Regions from separate parts of the Homo sapiens genome. Here region 2 is linked to region 1. Evidence: fine-mapped expression QTL. A gene starts in region 1. The other region holds a variant in brackets. All regions are shown on one strand. Distances are between the middles of the regions. Region 1 holds the start of PI4K2B (phosphatidylinositol 4-kinase type 2 beta). Region 2 holds the start of SEPSECS (Sep (O-phosphoserine) tRNA:Sec (selenocysteine) tRNA synthase).

Region 1 (8,334 bases):
TTTGCTAAATGCTTTAAGGTAATAAACTGCTTCTAAAAAAAAAAAGAATGACATTTCTCCAAATTTTGTGGAAAACATAAATCTACAGATTCAAGAAGTAAAGCAAAACCTAAGCAAGATATTTGTAAAGAAAATCATACCAAAAACATCATGGTCAAACTATTGAAAATCAAAGAACCAAAGAACCAGAGAAAATCTTAAAGGCAGCTAGAGAAAATGACATAGCACAAGTCGGGTGTGTAAGTGAAGGGTTATGATTCAAAAACAATGAAGGCAAGAGGACAATAGAATGACATATTTACAGTTGAACTTAGATGGGTAAGGATAGCAATATCAACCCAGAAGTCTGTATCCAGAGGACATAGCATTTGAAAATGATGGTAAAATAAAGACAATTTCTAATAAATTAAAACTTAAATTTATCACCAGTGTATTAGTCTGTTTTCATGCTGCAGATGAGGACATACCTGAGACTGGGCAATTTACAAAAGAAAGAGGTTTACTGGACTTACAATTTCACATGGCTGGGGAGGCCTTGCAATTATGGGGGAAGGCAAAGAGGAGAAAGTCACATCTAACGTGGATGGGAGCGGGCAAGGAGAGCTTGGGCAGGGAAACTCCTGTTTTTCAAACCATCAGATCTCATGAGACTCACTTACCATCATGAAAACAGTATTGGAAAGATCTGCCCCCATGACTCAATCACCTCCCACCTCCCACCTCCCACAACACGTGGGAATTGAAGATGAGATTTGGTGGAGACACAGCCAAGCCATATTAATCAGCAAATCTGCATTATAAAATTTGTTTTTAATTCTTCAGAGGAAAGGGAAATGATACTAGATAGAAACTCTGATCTACAAAAAGGAAGGAAGAACACCGGAAGTTGTAACTATGTGGGTAATTTCTCTAAAAAAGCAATTAAGGCAAAAATTATTCACTGTATTTAAATATTTAGGTCTAGTATACATGACAGCAATAACATAAACGATGGGGCATAAATGGAATGACACTAAGTTCTTACCTCTTATGTCAAATAGTACAATATTGGCTCTTAGTACACTGAGATAATTTAAGGATGAGTATTGAAAACCCTAGTGTAAGCACTAAAAATTAATGTAAAGAAGTATAACAGAGGCCAGGCGTGGTGGCTCATGCCTGTAATCCTAGCACTTTGGGAGGCTCAGGTGGGTGGATCACAAGGTCAGGAGATCAAGAACATCTTGGCCAACATGGTGAAACCTCGTCTCTACTAAAAATACAAAAATTAGCTGGGCATGGTGGCATGTGCCTGTAGTCCCAGTTACTCAGAAGGCTGAGGCAGGAGAATAGCTTGAACCCAGGAGACAGAGGTTGCAGTGAGCCAAGATTGCACCACTGCACTCCTACCTGGGCAGCAAGAGTGAAACTCCATCTCAAAAAAAGAAAAAAAATAAGTATAACAGAAAGTCAATGGTGGAATGAAAATGAAATAATCAGAATTATTGAATTAATCCAAACGAAGGCAGGAAAGGAGGAACAGAGGAACCGAAAAGGTTAAAGCAAATAAAACCCAAATTGCAAAATAATAGATCTAAATCCAACCACATCATTATTACATTAAATGTAAATGGACCCCAAACTCCAATTAAAAGGCATTTACAGGCCAGGTGCAGTACCTCACACCTGTAATCCCAGCACTTTGGGAGGCCGAGGCGGGTGGATCATCTGAGGTCAGGAGTTCGAGACCAGCCTGGCCAATGTGGTGAAACCCTATCTCTACTAAAAAATACAAAAATTAGCCGTGCATGGTGGCAGGCACCTGTAATTACAGCTATTCTTTCTTTAAAGCGGAGAAGGCATCAGGGAAGAGGGTTGTAGGTGGTGAAGCAAATGGTTACATTTTTGCTAGACTTTAGGTAGTGCCCAGTAACTCTATGCTATGCATAAGATAAGGTGAATATTCAAAGAAAATGGAGTAAAGGAAGTTAATTATACAGATATCTCAGGTGAAGGAATGATTGATCTTATCCTTGTTCTGCATCTGGGAAGATAAGCTTGTAACTGAATTTATCCATGTGAAATTTAACAGACTTTAGTTGTACCAGTTTGATTTAGGTTGCAGACTTAAAGTTATACAATTGACACGTCCTTGTTTTATGGAAGGATATACATCTTGAAAGGTTTAAGGGCCAGTAAAGAATTTACTATGATTAATTTGTTGAGGACAGTCATCCTGAGACTGAGATGCATAAGGCTTTTTTTTGCATTTTGAGGAGGGTCTGGCTAACATATAAAGTTTTAATACAACTATGGGAAGTAACAGCTATCCATTTGGGAAAAGCATTGTAGTGTTGAGTGACTTCAGTCTCCAGGCTTAACTCTCCCTTTGACATAACAAGTTGGGGGTGGGGGGTGGTTCTGAGATTTTTATTTTCCTTTACAGGGTCAAAGAGGAAATCATAAAGGAAATTAAAAACTATTTTCAGCTGAAGGAAAACAAAAGCACAGTAGCAGGCCAGGCAAGGTGGCTTATGCTTGTAATCCCAGAATTTTGGGATGCTGAAGCAGGACGACTGCTTGAGACCAGGAGCTCAAGACCAATCTGGGCAACAGTGAGATCCCATCTCTACAAAAAATTTAAATTTAAAAATTAACAGGATGTGGTCGTGCACACCTGCAGTTCCAGCTACTGTGTCTTCTACAGTTTAAAGCTGAGAAGATCCCTTGAGCTTAGGAGGTTGAGACTGCAGTGAGCTATGATTGTGTCACTGCACTCCAGCCTGGATAACAAAGTGAGACCCTGTCTCAAAAATAACAACCACCAAGAAAAAAAAAAAGGAGAATTCAGCTAAAGCAGTGCTTAGAGGGCAATTTATAGCCTTAAAATACTAGCATTGGAAAAGCAGAAAGATCCAGAATCAATCATCTTCTACTCTAAGCAACTAGAAAAAGAAGAGGAAATCAAAACTCAAGTGAGCAATAAAGAGCAAAATAAGGCAATGGACCAGAAAACAGAAAATCAATGGAACCAAAACATGACATTTTGAAAAGATTTAAAAATTGATAAACTTCTAGCTAGATTAGTCAGAAAAAGAAAACATACAAACTGCCACTATCAAGAATATCTGAACAAAGACAAGGTCCCTGCCCTCCTGGACGTCTACTGGAGGAAAGAAATGTCATACAATTAAATCTATAGTTACAGATTATGGTAAACTCTGAGAGAGAATTCTGTCAGGGAGAAGCCGCTTTTGGTTGCAGGAGGGCACCTCTTTGAAAATTACTCACCTTCCCGCCCTCCACTGGGAGTAAAGCGAGCTGTGCCCAGCTTCTCCCCGCGCTCACGGAAGCAGGTGGCGGCCCCACCCCACCTGACCCCTCAAAAGCCCCGCCCCCTGTTCACTCCCACGTGCCCCGCTGCCGCCGCCGCCGCCGCCACGACCCTTCTGCGCAGGCGCGGGGGTGGTGCCTGGCGGAGGCGCGAGGTGGGGCGCGGCCGGCGGCGAGGCGGGACAACCGCTGGGCGGGCGCCAAGCGTGCCCGTGCGCTGGTGAGGTGGCGTCCGTTCTACCCGGTCGCTCCCGTTCCGCGCCATGCAGAGCCCAGTCTCTGGCACCTGGCTGCTCTGATCTGGTCTCAGCGCGGAGGGAGCAGAGGGAGTCCATGGAGGATCCCTCCGAGCCCGACCGGTTGGCGTCCGCGGACGGCGGGAGCCCGGAGGAGGAGGAGGATGGGGAGCGGGAGCCGCTGCTACCGCGGATCGCCTGGGCCCACCCGCGGAGAGGCGCCCCAGGCAGCGCCGTGAGGCTGCTGGACGCTGCCGGGGAGGAGGGCGAGGCCGGCGACGAGGAGCTGCCCCTCCCGCCCGGGGACGTGGGGGTCTCCCGGAGTTCGTCCGCCGAGCTGGACCGGAGCCGCCCCGCGGTTTCAGGTGCGACCCGGCCCTGCCCCACTCCCCGCGCCCCTCCGGGCGGCTGCCCCTGTCGCCCGGCTCGGTCCTGTCTCCCGCGCGCGCTGGCCGAGGTGGACGGGCTTTCCCCGCTCGCTGGGCAGCAGCTCCCGAGCTCGGACCGGCGCCAGCCGCAGCCGCACCGCGGGCACCTAGCTTGCTCGCTCTTTCTCCGGGAGCTCCCTCTCCTAAGGCCAGTGGTTGTCATTAAACCGATTCTTTAGACCTCCCCGCAAAGTGAGTCAAAACTTCTAGAAACCGACACTGGGGAGAGGTTAACGCTGTAAAATGACGTAAGTCCTTGCTCAAGTTTGGACTTGACTTTTGAATTAAGAACCTTGAACTCTCAGGAAAGTTCCCGGAGTGGTGAATTTGCAAAGTGGATGACAGGAGAGAGATGGACAGCCAGAATATCCAGTTGCCACTGGGGCACGTTTCAAAACCTTTTTCTATTAAATGTTGTTATTATGAAGTTAGCCACAGGGGGCAAAAGCAGTTGAAAGTCTGTTCCTGCCCTCTTACAGTTTAGTTTCTCTTTCTTGATTTACTTCTAATACATAAGAAAACCAAAACGAAAAACCTCTTTTCGCTATTAAGCGGACTGATAACCTCAGGCGAAACAGGGCAGTTGAAATGATGTTGAAGGTTAAATTTAGGTATGCTGTGCAGGCCTGGATATTTATTAATAAAGTGAGTTTTTCTGGCGTGTTGAATGGAGTTAGACAAATGTGATGGAAATAGCAAGAGACTTGTAAGACTCTCAGCTAGAGGTGAGACAGACTTGTTTGTAAAAAGGCGATGGTACACCTCCCTGCTGGTTGTGAGGATGGATTAAATGAGATGTTGTGCACCCGGTTGGTTTATCGCTTCACACATGACAACTTAAAAACCACAGAAAATGGAAGTTTCTTTAACACTGCTTAGTTTTTTTTGGAATTGTTAGATTTTAAATGTACTGTTAGTGGTACACTAATGTGTCCTTTACAGTTTAAAGAATTTTGGATAGAATCGGTCACTCAAGTTCTAGCTAGAGGCTACATTCAGGCATATTCTAGAGTAAATAAATCAGAGAATCCCAAGGGGAGCAGTTTGTCTGATTGTTTAAGCTTTAACCAACGTCTGCTCCCGTTATAATGTTACCTGATGGATGCATTGACGTTTAACCAAACAACGTGAAGCTGAAACCAGATCACAAACGGGTCTGCATTTGCCTAGCTACATTGGCAATTTGGGTATATGTTACTTAGAATTTAGTCTGTAAAATAGCTAGCTTGCCTTTTTCTGTCCCTTACCTTGTGTAAGCTACCTTGTGTACCTGGGTTTTTAAAAGAGCCTAAAGCCTTCAAAATGCACTTGTTCTGTGAAAGTGAGGTGTTTTATAAACAAACAGTATTAAGGCTAGAAAAAAATCAAAGCGAGAGGTCAACGAGATGGCAGGCCTGTAATCCCATCCCAGCATTTTGGGAGGTCTAGGCAGGAGAATAGCTTGAGGCTGGAAGTTCGAGACCCACCTGGGCAACATAGCGAGATCCCCATCTCTATAAAAAATAAACAACAACAACAACAAAAATTCAAAGTGAGGATAGAGTATAGTGTTAGAATACAAATGGATTCTTAGAATTCCTACCTTTTTTAAAGGTAATATCTTACCTGTATCACAGTTTACAATTTGCTAAGATCTTTTTTAAAAAAATATTTTATTCTCCACTGCACTCCAGCCTGGTTCTGTCTTGAGACAGAGCAAGACTCTGTCTCAAAAATAAATAAATAAATAAATAAATAAATAAATAAATAAATAAATAAATAAATTTTATTCTCTGTTGGGTGCCATGGCTCATGCCTGTAATCCCAGCATTTTGGAAGGCCTAGGTGGGTGGATCATTTGAGGTCAGGAGTTTTCAGACCAGCCTGGCCAACATGGTGAAACCCTGCCTCTACTAAAAATAGAAAAATTAGCCAGGCATGGTGGCGGGCGCCTGCAATTCCAGCTACTTGGGAGGCTGAGGCAGGAGAATCGCTTCTGAACCCGAGAGGTGTAGGTTGCAGTGAGCAGAGATGGCTCCACTGCACTCCAGCCTGGGTGACAGAGTGAGACTTTGTCTCAAAAAAAAAATTAATTATTTTCACAACAGCACAGCAAGTTAGTTGTTATTCGCCATTATTCTCATTATGAGGATTCAGAATTAATAAACTGGTAATGACTGGTAGCTCAGGTCTTCAGAGGTAAATGGTTTGCCCGAAGTCAAATATCCAGGAAGTAATAAATCAGGAGGAAGCCTGGTTCTTTCTTCATCTTCTGCCCCTTTTCCGTTTTGCCATGGGTCCACAAGTGTTATAAAATAATTGTGTCTGTGGTTATTTTGGAGGTTTTTACCTTTAATAGGACTTTAAAATAGTTTCTGTGAAAACTGTTTAAAAAATTTTTAAAGACTAAAATGTTCATGATTGAGTAATTTAATACTTTTTAAGTTTAGTTATTTTTTAAATGACTCCATTAACTTCATTTGTCCTTTACCATCCGATTTCCATGAAACTACCTCACTAGTTCCAAGAAATTCTTGCCTTTAGATTAATATGAACATCATTTATGATGCTTAACTCTTACTTATATAAGCAAGAGGTTTATGTACTTTAGCCAGTGGAAGAATGTCATATGTCTGTTATCTTCAACAAGGCATTTAACAAAGCCTACAAACAGCATAAACCATAGTGTTGTTGGATCAGTGTCAAAGTGGAAGGATTAGTGCATTCCTTGTTCTAGTTATTTTAATCAGTGAATTCGGTAGTAATGACAGCTAATGCCTACATAGCAGTTAATATGCGCTAGGCATAGTTCTGTATGCTTCATATATATTAATTCATAACCAACCCTGTGATGTGAGTACTATTTTTGTTTTTTTTTTTTGTTTTTGGCAGTGGGTGGCTGTAGGGGTGGCAGTGGGGGAACAGAGTTTCATTCCTGTCACCCAGGCTGGATTGTAATGGCGTAATCTCGGCTAACTGCAACCTCCACTCCCCAGGTTCAAGCGATTCTCCTGCCTCACCCTCCCAAGTAGCTGGGATTACAGGCACATGCCTGGCTAATTTTGTATTTTTAGTAGAAACGGGGTTTCACCATGTTGGTCAGGCTGGTCTCGAACTCCTGACCTCAGATGATCCTCCCGCCTCGGCTTCCCAGAGCACTGAGATTACAAGGCCACCATGCCTGGCCTTGTTCTCATTTTAAGAAAGTATAGGGAGAGGCTGGGCATGGTGGCTTACGCCTGTAATCCTAACACTTTGGGAGGCCTCTTTGGTGCACACCTGTAGTCCAAGCTACTCAGGAGACCGAGGCAGGAGGATTGCTTGAGTCCATGAGTTTCAGGTTACACTGAGTCCAGTGAGCTATAATTGCACCACTATACTCCAGCCTGGGTTACAGAAAAAGACCCTGTCTCAAAAGAAAAAAAGAAAAAGCACAAAGAAGTGAAGTGACTTCTCCAAGGTCCCAGTTAATACAAATCAGGAGCGCTTAGCTCCTGTTAGAGAGCCTAACAGTTAGAAAACAGTGTTAGAATTCACAAAGAGCTGCCAAAGTAAAAGAAAATGTGAATTTGTAAGTCATTTAATGATTCATGGTGGTTTATAAATATGTGAACAGAATAAGAAAATCATTTAAAAGGAAGAAAGATGAGAAGATGGAGCCTGGAGTAAGATTACACAAGATGTACCTCAGATGCTTGATGCAGGCAACCCACAGATTTGATTTTTGAAATTACTGAGCAGCTAACTTGAGAGAAACACAATCATGTGGTCTATACAGTTAAAATAAACTGGTTATTTGAACCAAAACAGAACAGACAAAGGGTAGCCTGTCACAGTCTCTTGGTGAATGCTGTATGCTGAACAATATCTGTGATTAAAGTGATTAATTTCATAAAGGTAGTTCTTATAACTTCCCTAAAGTCCATTTCAGCAGAAATGGTTTTAACTACTGGTGCTATTGTGTCCGGAATTGGTGGGTTCTTGGTCTCACTGACTTCAAGAATGAAGCCATGGACCCTCGCGGTTAGTGTTACAGTTCTTAAAGGCGGTGTGTTCGGAGTTTGTTCCTTCTGATGTTCGGATGTGTTCGGAGTTTCTTCCTTCTGGTGGGTTCGTGGTCTCGCTGGCTCAGGAGTGAAGCTGCGACCTTCACGGTGAGAGTTATGGCTCTTAAGCTGGCGCGTCTGGAGTTGTTCATTCCTCCTGGTGGGTTCCTGGTCTCGCTGGCTTCAGGAGTGAAGCTGCAGACCTTTGCGGTGAGTGTTACAGCTCATAAAGGCAGTGTGGACCCAAAGAGTGAGCAGCAGCAAGATTTATTGCAAAGAGCGAAAGAACAAAGCTTCCACAGTGTGGAAGGGGACCTGAGCAGGTTGCCACTG
Region 2 (8,276 bases), 74 kb before region 1:
GTCCAATGCCATGAATGAACCTAAGCAAAAAATGGGCCAAAAACTGGACAAATACATTCAGCATTCCGAGTAATACAATGTACAAATATGCAAATGTAATAACCAAAAAAACACCAGGAGCAATATTTGGCTGTTACAGATATATGTCACAAACTATTAATGATGTGGAACTCTCCTACTTAAATTGAAATAATTTCATCAATTATGCTGTGATAGCTAGTTTCCAAAGACGGCCACCATCAATTCTTTTTCTCCCTATGCCCACATGCTACTCCCACACCAAGAGATGGAGTCTACTTCCTCTCCACTTGAATCTGGGCTGAATTTAGTAACTTGCTTGGCCAGGAAGAATCTAGCAGAAGTAACTGTGTGAAATTTTCATGCTAGGCAAACCTTCAGATGACTAAACTCTCAGCCAGTATCTGACTGCAACTACATGACAGACCCAAAGCAATACTCACCCTGCTGAGCCCAGTTAATCCAAAAAGCTATGAGAGGTAACAATAAATGTTTTAAGCCACTTAATTTTAGGGTGGTTTGTTCTGTAGCAATAGAAAACTAGAATACATGAAATATTAAATTATCTTTTTTTTTTTTTTTTTCGTTTTGAGACGGAGTCTCGCTCTGTCGCCCAGGCTGGAGTGCAGTGGCGCGATCTCGGCTCATTGCAAGCTCCACCTCCCAGGTTCCCGCCATTCTCCTGCCTCAGCCTCCCGTGTAGCTGGGACTACAGGCGCCCGCCACCACGCCCGGCTAATTTTTTTGTATTTTTAGTAGAGACGGGGTTTCACCATGTTAGCCAGGATGGTGTGGATCTCCTGACCTCGTGATCCGCCCGCCTTGGCCTCCCAAAGTGCTGAGATTACCGGCGTGAGCCACCGTGCCCGGCCAAATTATCTTTTTTCTTTACTTTTCCCCTAATTCCACACTGGGCTAAGTTCCAATGATGGTTCAAATATTGCCTTAATTTTAAAAGAACTATATGCTCCTAGAAAATCAGTGTGCAAATCTCATTTTAAATTAGACAATATTATACATTGTTTAAAGATACCTCTCAATACTCTTTAAAATAAAAAACCCTTTCGTAATTTGAGTAATTTCTAATTGACAGTCAAATATATCAGAAATTCGGTATAGGAGGATTATCGAAGAATACTAGTGCTGTACTTCCTCACCACTGAAATCTCATGTACAAAACATTTCTTACATATATTATCAACCATGTTATCAGCAAACTGTTAACTGAAATTTTCATCCAAGTTAGGCATTATCATCAGTTTTGACTGCAGTGGTTTTTACTGAAATACAAATTCTACGATGCCCAGGAAATTTTCATTATAATGTAAAAGCATGGAAGACAGGAGTTTCATTTAAAAGAGTTTACACTTCACAGAAAGGTTAGTGGACAGAGCAATGAGTGATCATATTAACTACCAATTAACTACCAATTAAATCGTTATCAGAATTGATGAAAAGCTTTCTGCAATAATGCAAAAGAAAAAGGTCACTTAATAATCTAATACACCTTTCCCTGTATCTATTGCAACAGAGGTATTTATAAAATGAGATTCAGTTTAAACACAGTTTAAAACAAAATTTAAAGTTGATAACTATAAATCATTCAAAAAAAAAAAACACTACAAATGTTAGAAAAGAAATATGGAAAGCTATAAACAACCTTAATGGATTTTGAACTCTTACAACCAGATATGTTTATTAGGGTAACCGTTCCTAAGAAAACGTATAGCCTGTGTTAGTCACCCAGAACCTGACAGGGTAACCCCCACTTAGTTTTTACTCTATTGTCTTTGAAAAGCACCTGCTGAGATAAAATTGTTTCCATCTCCCTGTTGCATTTGGCTTACATATCCATTAGAGCAGGGAAGAAGTGGTTTACAAACTGACATTTGATAATCTAATAAGATAAATACTGCTGCCATTATTTTGAACCAAAAATAAATAAACGATGTATCTCCTGTACTACTTAAAAAAAGATACCTGTAATGACGACGAGCAACCAGTGCGGATGCCACTCTCCCTTCCCTTTCTCCCACACCACAATTGCCTAAGAAATTGTTGCTGTCCATGATTGCAAGTTCATGTAAAAAGAGTTCAAGTGTACTTTCATCCCAGCCATTCTCTGGACACTTGCCCTTAAAAAAAAAAAAAAACTTATGATTATATTTAATAAAACTACCGTTCTCTAGAATACTACAGGAATACAGTTTTTCTTTTTAACGTGTATTTTGCCACGCTGCTTGTTTTCTAAAATTCAAGCATAAATTCACCACTGTATAGAGACCGCAAAGAGGCAAAACGTTTGTACATTTGATTACAATTATTTACAGATTTCGAGAAGTGATGATAAATGCATACAATGAGGTTTACTGAGATATTTAAATTTCCGTAAGTGAAACTAACTGAAAACCAATACAACACATCCCCAGTGAAGATGCTTCAAACCAGGGCGTTACGACTGGGGCGGTGGGACGTGGAGAAGGGCGGTAGTTGTCAAACTTCAGTGAAATTTTGGCCACGCGCTGTAGCTCACTCACGCCTGTAATCCGAGCACTTTGGAAGGCCAAGAATGGCCGATCACTTGAAGTCAGGAGTTTGAGATCAGCCTGGCCAACATGGTGAAACCCCATCTCTACTAAAAATACAAACATTAACCGGGTGTGGTGGCGGGCGCCTGTAGTCCCAGCTACTCGGGAGGCTGAGGCAGGCGAATGGCGTGAACCCGGGAGGCGGAGGCTGCAGTGAGCCGAGATCGTCACACTGCATTCCAGCCTGGGCGAAAGAGCGAGACTCTGTTTCAAAAAAACAAAACACAACAAAACTTTTAATGAAATTAAAATACATGAACGCTGGCAGGAGGGAGACCTGTGAAGTTCCGCGGAAAGCTCGTGGTTCGAGTTAGCATACAGTCTACAAACACCATTATGTGTTCTGAGTCGTTGAGGGTTGGTGAAAGATGGAGGTGCGAACTTTGCCCTTTCCGCGAATAAAAAAGTACACTGGGACTTTCCCTCACTTCCGCATCCCGAAGTTAGAAACAGCGGGACTCAAAACCCCGACCCCAACACCCCCTCCTAACAACACCATTTGGCTTTCACTGGCTTTGGCAAGGCTGAGAAGGCACAGACCGCAGTCGGTCAGCTAGGGCAAGCCAAGCTGAGACAGACTTGGGACTAGTCTCAAGCAGCGAAGAGCTGCCGGTGAGGCAGCACCAGCGGGGACGCCCGGCGGAGCCAGAGCCCCGGGGTCGCGGCGGCTGGGGAGGGGACCGACAGCTCGGTACCTTCTCCAGAAGCAGCCGTATGAGGTGCTCATGCGAGCGGCGGGCCTCACAGCCCTGCCGCACGTAAGCCGGCGACACCAGCCGCTCTCCCGCCGCGAAGCTCTCGCGGTTCATGACAGCGGTGGCGACAGTGGCGAATAAGCGGGAGCACTAGCTCCACACGCCAGACACACGACGGAACCAGAATGCAACTCGCCGCCTGGACGGTACGGCAGCGCCTTGGGACAAAAAACAAAACAAAACAAAACAAAACAAAAAAAACACTTCTCGTTCGTGCACATGCGCAGACCTTCTCAGATGGCGCTCCAGGAGGAAGTTGGCGTATTTGAGCATGCGCGAGGGAGTCCGCGCTTTTCGCTGACTTTTGGCAAAGGAAGGACTGAAATTAGCCCCGCCCCGCTGCGGCTGATTCGTCTAGTTAAACCCTGGTGTTCCTGACACAAACTTCAGGAAAGGATTTTGCACTTGTGCAGACCGGGCGAGCAGAGTAAGAAGCAGGTACGTGGGTTTTTCCAAGTTCTGTGTTTCAGTCCTGTTGGATGGTTGAGATCTGTGCAGGGTCTGTGCTTCCGCCTTATTCAAACTGTCAGATGCCAGAACCTTCGATCTTTACTTTGATACATTTCCACACTTATTACTGCCTCACAACCCCATAGGAAATAGCAGTGCCCCACTCATTTTCCCCTTGACACTACTGTTTAGCCATAGCACTTACTACTCACCACGTGACATGCCAGACGTTTGTTTA[T/TAC]ACACACACACACACACACCCATACCCATGAATGTAAACTCTCTAACCTAACGGCAGGACCTCGGTTTTTGCTGCGGTGCCCCCTTCCCCCGGGCACCTAAAACAGTGCCCAGAATAAAGTAGGGCCTAAAAAAAAAGTTGATATTGAATTAATGAATTAGTTTGACCATTCTGAAACTATCCCCAAGAACATTTTGTAAAATTGATTAAGGAGGGGAAAAAAATCCAACTAGGCTTACAGCTGCTGTTATTAAGCCAGCTTGCAGTGTGGCCGACTTTCTTGTAGCTGGTTGCTACTTACTACCCCAGGAGAATGTGGCCCTTGTCACAAGACTCTTCATTCTTTTTCTGCTCTGAAGATAAAATCTAAGACATTATGAGAAGATAAGCTTTCTGTTTGCATTGCTTCTTTAGGTCCCGCATACCAACAAAACTAAGGACGCCAACTTGTCTGGAAGGCCCAATAAAAAGCTGATTCATGGAGGAATGCAATTGTCACATCCTAATGATTTCATCTCCCTTACCCCAACGAATCGATAACCCCAAATTTTCCAGCCCCTCACCCTCCACAAATCCCCTTAAAAAACTTTGCCTAGAACCCCTTGATGAAATGGATTGAAGCTTGAGAACTCTTCCTGTTTCCTGGCTTGTAACTTGTGATTATTAAAACTTTCTCTGCTGCAAGCCTGCTGTCGGAATACTGGTCTGTTTCTGCACAGCCGGCATAGGAACCTGGCAGTGCTGTAACAGTTCAACAACTTAGAGGTTCACTGCTGGAGATCCCTGCCTCCAGTTTCCTTACAATCTTCATCTTATGTGAGCCTACAGTAATTCCTGACATTGCTTTCACCTGGTGGTTTGTCCATTTGCACTGAGTCACACCCACTTGCAAGAGCTGATTGTTAAATGTTCAGTAATTTTGTGAGCTAGTTTTCAAATACAGCCACTCAAAAATTATATTACAAGCAAAAGTAAAAATACTCAAAATTTGTCACTTCCTAATTATTTTACATTTTACTATTATCTATGCTCTTCAGGTTATTTACATGCATTTTATCTATATGGTGGAAATTCAATGTAATGTTATACTACTGCACATCTTCCAACTCCTCTTTTGATGATGTCACGTTGGCCATGGTGGGAGCATTTACACCATGGAAATCAGTAAACACCGCTAATCAGGCCCTTACACTCCAACCCACTCCCCTAGAAGTCAGTTGTTCAACATGTACCAGCTCATCACTGTTTCTACTGCATGTTCCCATGGCATCCAGCTATTAATATAAATCAGTCTATTTATGGTATTTGTTGAATTGCATTTCAATTGTTAATTTTCTGTCTCAACTAGACTGTGAACTCCTGGTTCACAAGGGCTATACCAATATCTGTGTTCAAAGCACAGCACTAAATACATAATAGCTGTTTGATAAATATTTGTTGAATGACATAGAGCATTTAACTACTTTAAACAGAAAGGTAAACCACAAAACAACAAGAATTTAGCATACTTTCTAAAATGAGTATTTTTCAAACTTTTGGAAAGTTGTGTTCCTATTCTCAAAATGCAACTATTTTTGCAACTTCTTCTTTGGAAAAGCCTTCAAAGCTGCTTTGTCAATCACATGCAAAATGTGCAAAAATCCCAAAATTAATGTCATTACTGAATGGACACGCCAGGTTTTTGAGCCAGCTTCTTCTCTTACCTTATTCACCACCTTACTTCAGAAAAATGTTTGTCTGTTTCCAAAAAGTTAGTCATTGTCAAGATATGCATTCATTAAAGGTATTCAAAAGATACCAGCTTTGGAAGCAATTTCAAGAGAAGTATTCTAAAATTACTTTCATCCATTCACTCACCCAACAAGTATTTATCCATATGCCCATTTTACAGATCAGGAAAGCAAAGCTCAAGAAGTTTGAGTAATGTATTTAAGGTTATACAATGAGTGACACTAGCAGAATTTAAACCTGTGTGTTCTGGACCTATTTTAAATGATGCTATCTATTAAAAATAGTATGTAATTATTATTTTAAAATAGTAGTTTGTAACTACTATTTTAAAATAGTATGTAATTACTATTTTTAATAATAGTATGTAATTACTATTTTTAATAGGGCAACATCAGAATAACCTCATGGTCTTTACAAGATGAAGCATCATTTAAAATAGGTCCAGAACACACAGGTTTAAATTCTGCTAGGGTCACTAGTTGTATAACCTTAAATACATTACTCAAACTTCCTGAGCTTTGCTTTATCTGTAAAATGGGGATATGGAAGAGGCAGTTATGATGATTAAATGAGAGGTAATTGCTCAATGACATCTTCCCCTAGATAGACTGACTATACAAATGGACAATGGCCAGATCATATGTGATAACAGAACTCTCACCCACAACCTCTCTAGCAACTAGACTTCCAAACCACCACCTCTGCAGCAATCAGCCAAGAATGGTTAAGACTTGGGCAATGACTGCCAGCTTCCCTCTTTTATTACTCGCTTCTAACTTAAGACCAACCAGAGAAAGCTAAATATCCTCCTTAAATTACATAAGATGCCCTGTTTCTAGTTAGCCAACCTCTAGCTTCTCCTTGCCAACACCTCCAATCGGCACACCTGAATTCTTCCCTGTACCTGAATCTTTCACTATAAAGCTTTCCCACTCCCCTGCCTGCCTTTGAGACTCTTGACAAATGTAAATGATGGTGACTGACTCCCTTCTCTAGCACGCTCTGAATTTCCAGTTTTCCTGGAGACTTCACTGAGACATGGTCTGTGCTGTCCATGGCGGTGGACCTCAGCCTTTGGCCAGTTGTGGTGCCCACAGGGGCTCCTCGTGCCTTGTTGCTTATGGCTTGTCAAGTCCATGCCAACATGGTAAGTCAGTGCTGGCTTGGAACTCCTCCCTGTTTGCCTTGAGTTCCTAAGCTATTCATTTGAAGTTTGGTACTCAGATTTTGTTACTGGTTCCTATTTGCATCCTTAGTGGAATCAGGCAATTCCTTTTCATCCTTTGTGCTGTCCTTTGTACTTCTGTTTTGTATTGTGCTATCTAAAAGTGTTATTTTCCATAAGAAGGAGAATCATAGGGTAGAACATGGCCATGGGCCCTACAACCCTGTTGTTTAAGCCAGTTTCACAGACCGATGAGTTTGCAGTTCTCACCAGACTACATCCGTTTGGACAAATTTTGTTGTGGGTCACCAATAAAACTGGATGAAGTTCTCCCTTCATCTTGATTTTTTGTTCTGAGGGCTTGCTTTTGATCCAAAGAAAGAGGTCATTCTGATATTCTGCCTGCCAGGGGGCACAGATTGTTCGGTCTGTGTTCAAAAGGGGCAAAAATCAGGCTGGGGACTGAGACAGGATAAGCACGAGCATAACTTTCAACACCGTAGCCAGCTCTAAGTCTAAATCCTCTCCACCAGGAAAAACTTCTGCTTCTTATACATACTCTCATTACAATCCTAATGCTTGTGCCTATCTCTCTAAGTGGCATAACTTCAGCAATGAGGAGTTGGGCCTTCAGTGGCCACTCTGGGAAACACTTGACTTGACAAAATTTTTTATTTGATGGGCAAGAAAAGAAAGGGAATTAAGATTTCTTAGGTTTGATGGGCAACAGTTTTTTAGTGGTACACAGAGGCCTCCAAAGGAAATTCTGATTCAAGAATTATTCCACTAAAAGATGCTTTGGCTAAAGCTAACAAGCAATTTGACATCTTAAGCAACAACAAACTAGACTCATTTCCTAGTAAATCTTCCCCTTTGCGTTGGCTCCCTATATCCAGATGTCCCTCTTATCCCTTAGCCTTCTGATAGCTCTCTTTCTTCCCTTCCATCAACTCCCCCCTTCTCTTCCTCTTGTCCAGGACTCCTGCATTTTCCCAACAACTCTCCTAAAACTCTAAAATGTCAATTGCTTCTAAAGATCCCTCTCCCCTCAAAAGCCAGGTATGCAGGCAACTGCAGAATTTAAACTTTGCACCCAAGATGAATTAAGAGCAATAATCAAGAATTTCTCTACTTCCAAACAAGACCAGCAACTATTTATAGAAGAATTTAGGATTCATTTGAATGCATATGATTCAGGGTTACCTAACCTAAATATATCAATGTATACATATATTGGCCAGATCCTCAGGTGTTAAATCTTGGATTTAAAGAAAAGCTGATTGGACTGACATGAGAAGGGATCTACAAGGATCGCTTTTTCCCCAATAAAC

Evidence for each region. PIP is the estimated chance that this variant, and not a neighbour inherited with it, causes the effect.
Region 2: its variant is fine-mapped to the expression of PI4K2B in whole blood (INTERVAL, PIP above 0.99).

What each region holds. Positions count from the first base shown.
Region 1 is chr4:25,230,519-25,238,852 of GRCh38, forward strand. PI4K2B (phosphatidylinositol 4-kinase type 2 beta) reads left to right here and starts at 3,515. Exons shown (of 10, transcript NM_018323.4): 1 at 3,515-3,913. The coding sequence starts at 3,646. LOC105374535 (a long non-coding RNA gene) reads right to left here and starts at 3,347. Exons shown (of 4, transcript XR_925490.3): 1 at 3,271-3,347. RefSeq lists silencers at 3,305-3,614, 3,715-3,954, 3,995-4,054 and enhancers at 3,341-3,842, 3,843-4,342, 4,275-4,404.
Region 2 is chr4:25,156,955-25,165,230 of GRCh38, forward strand. It overlaps SEPSECS (Sep (O-phosphoserine) tRNA:Sec (selenocysteine) tRNA synthase), which reads right to left and starts at 3,495. Exons shown (of 11, transcript NM_016955.4): 1 at 3,302-3,495; 2 at 1,999-2,153; 3 at 1-20. The coding sequence starts at 3,415. SEPSECS-DT (SEPSECS divergent transcript) reads left to right here and starts at 3,718. Exons shown (of 2, transcript NR_037934.1): 1 at 3,718-3,799. RefSeq lists a silencer at 3,179-3,348 and an enhancer at 3,459-3,758. The variant T/TAC (reference allele first, on the strand shown) is at 4,050.